2 linked regions of the Homo sapiens genome follow. The protein of the gene in region 2 purifies or fractionates together with the protein of the main gene of each other region. This does not show direct contact. Each region holds a gene or a part of one and is shown on either strand. Other genes may lie near its edges.

Evidence for each region. Proteins that work in one complex are often made in the same cells at the same time.
Region 1: the proteins of MARCHF3 (region 2) and VAMP7 purify together in Homo sapiens (affinity purification with mass spectrometry, with the first as the bait; one large-scale study listed by BioGRID). This does not show direct contact.

What each region holds. Positions count from the first base shown.
Region 1 is NC_000023.11:155,891,298-155,894,947, reverse strand, and holds part of VAMP7 (vesicle-associated membrane protein 7), read right to left. Parts: intron 1-3,650. UniProt on the Homo sapiens protein: Involved in the targeting and/or fusion of transport vesicles to their target membrane during transport of proteins from the early endosome to the lysosome. Required for heterotypic fusion of late endosomes with lysosomes and homotypic lysosomal fusion.
Region 2 is NC_000005.10:126,877,009-126,880,658, forward strand, and holds part of MARCHF3 (E3 ubiquitin-protein ligase MARCHF3), read right to left. Parts: intron 1,387-3,650; coding exon 1,177-1,386; intron 1-1,176. UniProt on the Homo sapiens protein: E3 ubiquitin-protein ligase which may be involved in endosomal trafficking. E3 ubiquitin ligases accept ubiquitin from an E2 ubiquitin-conjugating enzyme in the form of a thioester and then directly transfer the ubiquitin to targeted substrates.

The DNA.
Region 1 (3,650 bases), on a different chromosome or scaffold from region 2:
CAGATGGCAAGGTAAAGAGTGAGCGAAAGGCCAGGCGTGGTGGCTGGCTCATGCCTGTAATCCTAGCACTTTGGGAGGCTGAGGCGGGCAGATCGCTTGAGCTCAGGAGTTCAAGACCAGCCTGGGCAACATGGCAAAACCCCGTCTGTACACAAAATACAAAAATTAGCCAGGTGTGGTGGCACACGCCTATAGTCCCAGCTACTTGGGAGGCTGAGGCAGGAGGATCGCTGGAACCCAGGAGGTTGAGGCTGTAGTAAGCTGAGATTGCGCCACTGCACTCCAGCCTGGGTAACAAAGTGAGACCTTGTTTCAAAAAACAACAACAACAAAAAAAAGTGAGCAAAGAGTTTTTCCAGAGAGGAAGCAGCAAGCATAAGGGCCTAGAGGTAAAACAGCACCTAATAGATTTAGGAAAGTAAAATTGGCTCACATGACTAGAGTACAGAATGTGAAGAAAAAGTGAATTATCTGGACAGACAAGACTGGAGAAGTAAGCAAAAACCAGGTTATACAAGACTTTATAAACCACACTGTGCATTATCCTAAGAATAATGAATAAACATCCAAAAGTTTTAGCCTAGGGAGGGTGTGATCAGATTTGCACTTTAAAAAGGACACATTAAAAAAAAAAAAAAAAAAAAAACAAAGGACACATTGGCTAGAGTGCGGAAAACTGACTCAAAGGAGGACCAGACAGGAGACTACTGCAGTATACCGGGTAAGAAATGAGGAGGGAAATAAACTAAAGTAGAATGGGTAATAAAGAAAAAGGGACAGAGAAGAGATAGGAGGCAGCATTTATAGAACTTGGTGACTGGCGTGAGACAGGTTAACTAAATTTTGCCTCCCACATTTGTACCTTGGGCAAGTGGATAGATAGGGGTACCTGTTGAATTATATTAATGTTCACAGAGGACTGACATGAATTACAAGGAGATACAGGAACTCAGGCAAAATCTTTTCCTCCAATACTCTAAAACTATTTGCACCATTTCCACCAATGACTTCCACATTGCCATATCCAGTGGCTCTCTCTGAAACATATGATAGTGTTGACCACTTCCTTTTGGAAAGTGTTTTATCTTCACTAGATTTCTTGACATCAGGCTTGCCTGGTGCTATAGACTGAACTGTGTCCTTTCAAAATTCATATGTTACAGTGTGACTATATTTGGAGACAAGGCCTTTGGGAGGCACTTAAGATTAGATGAGGTCATGAGGGTGGGGTCCTCGTGATGGGATTAGTGGCTTTAAAAAAGAGGAAGAAAAAGATCACTCTCTTTCCACCACCTGAGAACACAGCAAGAAGGTGGCCATCTGCCAGCCAGGAAGAAGGCCCTCATCAAGAACTGAATTAGCGGGCACCTCACGCAGTCTCCAGAACTGTGAGAAACAAGTATCTGTTGTTCAAGCCACTCAGTCTATGGTATTTTGTTATAGCAGCCCAAGCAGGCTAATATACCTGGTTTATATCATAGTCCCTTTCCCTCTACACTAACGTTTTCTAGCTTCCTTAGCCTCCTGCTTTTTTCACACTTACTTACTCCCTGGAGGGCAGCATGCACTCTCATGTTTTGTTGTAGTTTGTTTTCAGCTACCACAATTATGCCAATGATTCCCAAATCTCCATCTGACCTATCTCCTGAGCTCCAGGACTACCTACACTACTGTCTACTAGACATATCCAACTGGACATACCATAGACAGCTTAAACATGACATGCCCAGAATGAAAGTCATCACTTTCCCCATAAAATTTGTTTCTCCTAAACCAGACTTGTAAGTCACTTGGTGCACAGGCCACAAAAGGTAACAAGGTATGATCCCTGCCATCAAGAAGCCTACAGTCAGGGTACAGAAATAAACAATCATTTCAATTATAATACAGTCTGAGGCCAGGCACGGTGGCTCATGCCTGTAATCCCAGCACTTTGGGAGGCCGAGGCGGGCGGATTGCCTGAGGTCAGGAGTTCGAGACCTGCCTGGCCAACATGGTGAAACCCCATCTCTACTAAAAATACAAAAATTAGCCAGGCGTGGTGGCACACGCCTGTCATCCCAGTTACTCGGGAGGCTGAGGCAGGATAATCACTTGAACCCAGGAAGTGGAGGTTGCGGTGAGCTGAGATTGCGCCATTGCACTCCAGCCTGGGCAACAAAAGCGAAACTTCGTCTCAATAATAATAATAATAATAATAATAATACAGTGTGAAAAGTGTTACAATATGAACAAACTAGATGCTATGTAGACACATAAAAAGAGTGTCTGATTGCGGTGCCTGACTCAGTGTTAATGTTCAGGGGTTTCTGGAAAAGGAAACATCTAAGCTCAGGCACACAAAGTGAGATTTTTAAAAAATTAAGTAGATAAATATATTCCAGTAAAAGGTAACAGCTATTGCAAAGGCTAGGAAGAGAGAAAGAACCTAGCATTGAATTGTAAATGGCTAAGTATGAAGTATGGCTGGAAAGCAAAACTGAGGACTAAAGTAGTAAAAGATGAGCCCACAGAAGGAAAAAGTGGCAGATCTTGAAGAATATTCCAAGTCCCGTTAAGGAATTTTACCTTGAGGGCAGACAGTATCTGTTGAAGGAAGGAATATGATCAGAACTGCCCTTTTAGAAGCATTAAAGTACAAATTAAGAAAGTATTTCGCTTGGGACCTGTAAAGTGAGCAAAAGTTTACAAGGAGGCTTAGGGGGAGAACAGCATTCCTAGAAGATAACAAAAGCATGAAAAAAAGGTACCAAAGCTCGAAATAACACAGCTAGATCAGAGACACAGGCAGAGAGGCATGGCAGACAGATAACATCTCCTTCTACTATAACTGCATTTTAATTGGATTACATATTCTATACTCTCTTAAAGCTACATATGGCTGTGACTAAATTCTGGCTCATAATACATGAGTGGAAGATATATGCCCTATTTCCCAGTCTTGCCTCTAAAAGGACGACTACATGTGCTTTCCCTGGACATTTTCCCAGGAACTGCCTAGAAACACAAAGACTGTAAGTCTAATACATTTTTAGAGAAAGTATAAAGCCAAAATCATAAGAAGCTAAGATTATTTAACCCCTAACCTCTAGGCCCACAAACCTACGCTGGCAGCAAGAGGACTACAAAATGGGTACAATTCCCAAAGATGATATACTCTCTAACTACCATTTTGGATGTGGCCAGAAAGGAAAAACTTCCTGGAGAACAAAGCCAGGAGTCAGGGAAAAAGGGTGAGGGAGTTCCTCCAAGAAAGCAGAACCACTAACCACTTCCTGGTCAGAATAGGGAGTCTTTGAAATTGTGTGAGGCAATTATTTGATCATTACTGGAAAGCAATGACTTCTACATGTTTCTCATTCTTCCCTTTTCCAAATGGGAGTTTGTAACTCTCACTGTGATGATCCTTTTCTTATTTCACCATTGTCTACTGGGTTAGGCTGGGAAAGCAGGGAAAACATATGACTTATCTTTTACTTTATGGTCAGTGGACCACAGGAGCCACACCAGGGCCTGATGGATAGGACTGTGTACCACCTAGACATGCTGGACTTGGAGCCAAACACAGTGACTAGATAGGTCTTTGGAGCTACCTCTCTCAGAGAAGAGGCGTATTCTATGTTTGGGAAGAAAGGTTCACTGAAATATCT
Region 2 (3,650 bases):
GAACAGAATGTCTAAATTAACCATAAGACTCAGATAAGTTCTTAGCATTAGAACACTCCCTCTTTACTGAAACTGAAATGTATCTCCTTACTGTTTGAACACTCTCACTGGAGGGGAGGCACAGAGCTGGAAGAGCCATATGATGAAGAAGAGGGAAATGAACAGGGTTGTGGGAGTGGCAGCTGGAGGAACAGGGTCTGGGAGACACAGAAAGGGAGGAAGTATGTGCTAGAAGCAGCTTCCACATGCTGACACTGTGCTATGGGATATGGGAATGGTACACTTTAGACAGGAAATACATATTGAATAACAGTGGAACGTGCTCAGATTAGAAACGAGCAGGCACAGGAGAGTAATGCCAGGAAGCAGGGGGCCCAGCTTCTGAAAATATTCTAGAAGACAGTGATGTCCTTCCCTGCAGCTCCCAGAGGAAAGCATAAGGAGAGAGATCAAATGTTGCATTTTGTGGGTGCTGTCAACTGGTACTCAAGCGATCAACTTACTGCATGAAGTTAAAAGTTAAAAGAATGAAAAAAGTGATATGTAAAAATTCTTCCTCACACACAGCGAGAACACTTATTGGGAAATGGCCTTTCTTTGGTGGCAGCTTCTCAGCTAGATAAATTAGTGCTTTTATGGGCAGCAGAGTCAATATCCCAACACACAGAATAATCACCAGGCAAAGTGCGGCTCCACGTCCAACAAAGACTTTAGGCTGTGTCAGGACGTAAGAAGGAAATAACCAGCAGGGAGGATTCACGATCTGTGCAGGCAGTGACAGCAACAGCAGCCAAATGCATCATTCATAATATACTACAATCCCGGCAAAAATGAGAAACATAAACAAGGGAAAGAAAATGCCAAGACTCATAACAGATGGAGTCCTAGACTACTAGAGGAGAGAAACGTCCATGGTGTGTCTGTGTCTTTGACTGATGGACACCCAGAAGCCAAACTTTTTCTTTATGTGATCCGCCTTAGCAGCACAGACACACACACAGACAAACACACACACACACACATAGTCATAAACCAAATCTCATGCTCCCGCCAGCAATCGAAGGTCTGTTTTCTACCGGGCAGGTGAGATGTGTTACAGACAAGAGGAAAGGCTTGTGCCAGCTGTGAGGCTGCCAGCTCCAAATGGCCTGAACCCCAGCCACGGCCCATACTTACTAGTGTCCAAAAGAGGTAAATAGTGAAGAGTGCGACAGTGAGTGCAATCAGTCCGACGGCTTCCAGCCGACTACTAAAGTGCAGGTGGTCCACGGCGCCCCGCAGGCACAGCCAGCCCGAGATGGTGGCCAGGGGAGTTATAAACAAGAAGCACACCATGTCGCCAAACAGAGTCCGCTTCTCATGCTGGGGGCCAGGGTTTCTCAGCCACTGCCAGGTAAAGGGAGACAGAGAAGAGCAAGGGAGAGGGTTAAATGCCAGTGTGGAGTGGAGACACGCTGTTCTGAAGTTATCTTTGCCTTCAGAACCTTGGGAAAAGGCATTTCTGACTTGTTATGAGATAACAAGGAAGTGTTCAGGGCTCATTCCCATGCTCCACCCCCTGAATAATAATGATATGATACAAATAACAATAATAATTTATAGTGTCCTTGCTGTAGATGACCTACTTTTTGTGAAAATAGTCGTTACTATTCAGAATCACAATGATCCCATGTGGAAGGAAGAGAGAATGTTACGCTTGGAAGGTGACAGCTGAGGTAGGAGAAGTTCAGTCATGTGTCCAAAGCCTTCCAGTGTCTTCACCCTGGGAATATGTGCTGGAAACGGTTGAGTTGCTCAAGCCCCGCACATTCCCAAGACAGGCCTGTTTTTAGGACTGGCTCTTGACCAGCTTCTGAGAGATGAGCTCTGAGTCCTAGTAACATTTTACCTGATAAGAGTATTTTGCATGCCAGAGGCCTTGGGCCCACAATACTAGTATGATGAGACACTTTATGCCAACAATGTGATTTATGGTGAACACCTATTTTTGCCCTGGGAGCCTGGAGTTTGAGTAGCTGAGGTCAGTCATGCAGATATTGCATGTCTGTGTGACTGATCCCAGTCAAATCCTGAATACTAAAGCTCAGGTGAGCTTCCCAGATTGGCAAATACTTCGCCCATGTTGTCACAAATCATTGCTGGAAGAATTAAGCATATTTGTTTGACTCCACTAGAAAAGGACACATGGAAGCCTGTGTCTTGTTTCTCCTGGACTTCACCCCATGCACCTTCACCCTTTTCTGCTTTTAATCTGTATCCCTTTGCTGTAATAAACCATAACCATAAGTATAACAGTTTTTTCTGAGTCCCGTGAGTACTTTTAGTGAATAATTGAGCCTGAGGATGGTCTTGGGGATACCAAACACGGAATAATACTCACCTGACCCCATGAACTCATTAATGCCCACTCTTGGCTTTTGGATCCTGAACCTCCTCACTTAGGACCACCTCTGACATCTTGATTATGCTGCCATCTTGACTGAACTAATCCCCAAAAGGATGGGGAAAACCTCATGCTTGTTGAAAGACTAAATAGAATTTCTACAGTTAGGAAAATAGGATGGCTGTCCTCCCATTTGGGTACCTGCTTAATGCTTGCTATAATGCTTTCCAAAATCCATTCGACAATAGATTTAATTCAGTGCTTACATACTGGTGTCAATTCACATGAGTAATGAGGCCTGATAGCTCTTCTTCAGATTAGCATTGAAACACTCTACAGATAATTTGACATTCCCATCTCACTGTTCCATGTAGTAAACAGAGGCCAAGGAGTCCAGAGAAGGAGTGGGGTCAAACACAGACGATGGGGTTGGGGTGAGGAGAGACACTGGTACTCTTTGCCTTCCATCTTGTTCCTACCAACAAACAGGGACCTAGCATTGACTGTCTGCTGATGCGTGCCCAGCAGTGCCACACAGCTGGCTTGCCAAACAGGAGCACTGGCCACTTGCAGCCCAAGTGGCCAGGGCAGCGAATCCTACAAAACCACTGGGAGGAAGAGAAGGGCCATGATGGGTGAGACAAGAGTGGGTGGGGCTGACAGGAGAGGGAGGGGAAGGCCATGCTCAAGCATGGAACGACAAAATAGAAAAGCGGCAAAGAGGGAAAGAAGTTGAGGAAAGAGCAGTGTAAGGCCTGGCAAAACCCCAATGAGTGAGTAAAAGAAGCAGGAGGTAAAAGGCACCAAAGAAAGTTTTCTGGGAGGTGCCCTTCCTCAAATGTTTGCATGAATCCCCAACACTCCACCTTTCAGGGACAAGCCACCTTAAACACGGGCTGAAATGCTGAATACAGTCAGTTTCACCTCGAAAGTGGACACAAATAAATATTAAAACATAGATAATGGGGAGCTGACTTGTCTGCGAATTTAAATACTGCATTATATTTAATATAAATACCAAAATAAGTGCAAATGATATTAATCCTGCCATGTGTTGTCATGCCACCTCAGACATCTCAGCAGCTTCAAAGAAATTCAAAGAGCTCTTATTAATTAACATGTTCTTGCCTGAGTACTGGGAATATCACTATCAAGTGGAGAGTAGAAATAGGGCATTATTGTATCTTAATTTTATAGAGGCTCAGTAAAGTTAAATGATGGTGCCAGGTGATTCAGAAGCTGAACTGAGAAGAGGATCGAGATCTCT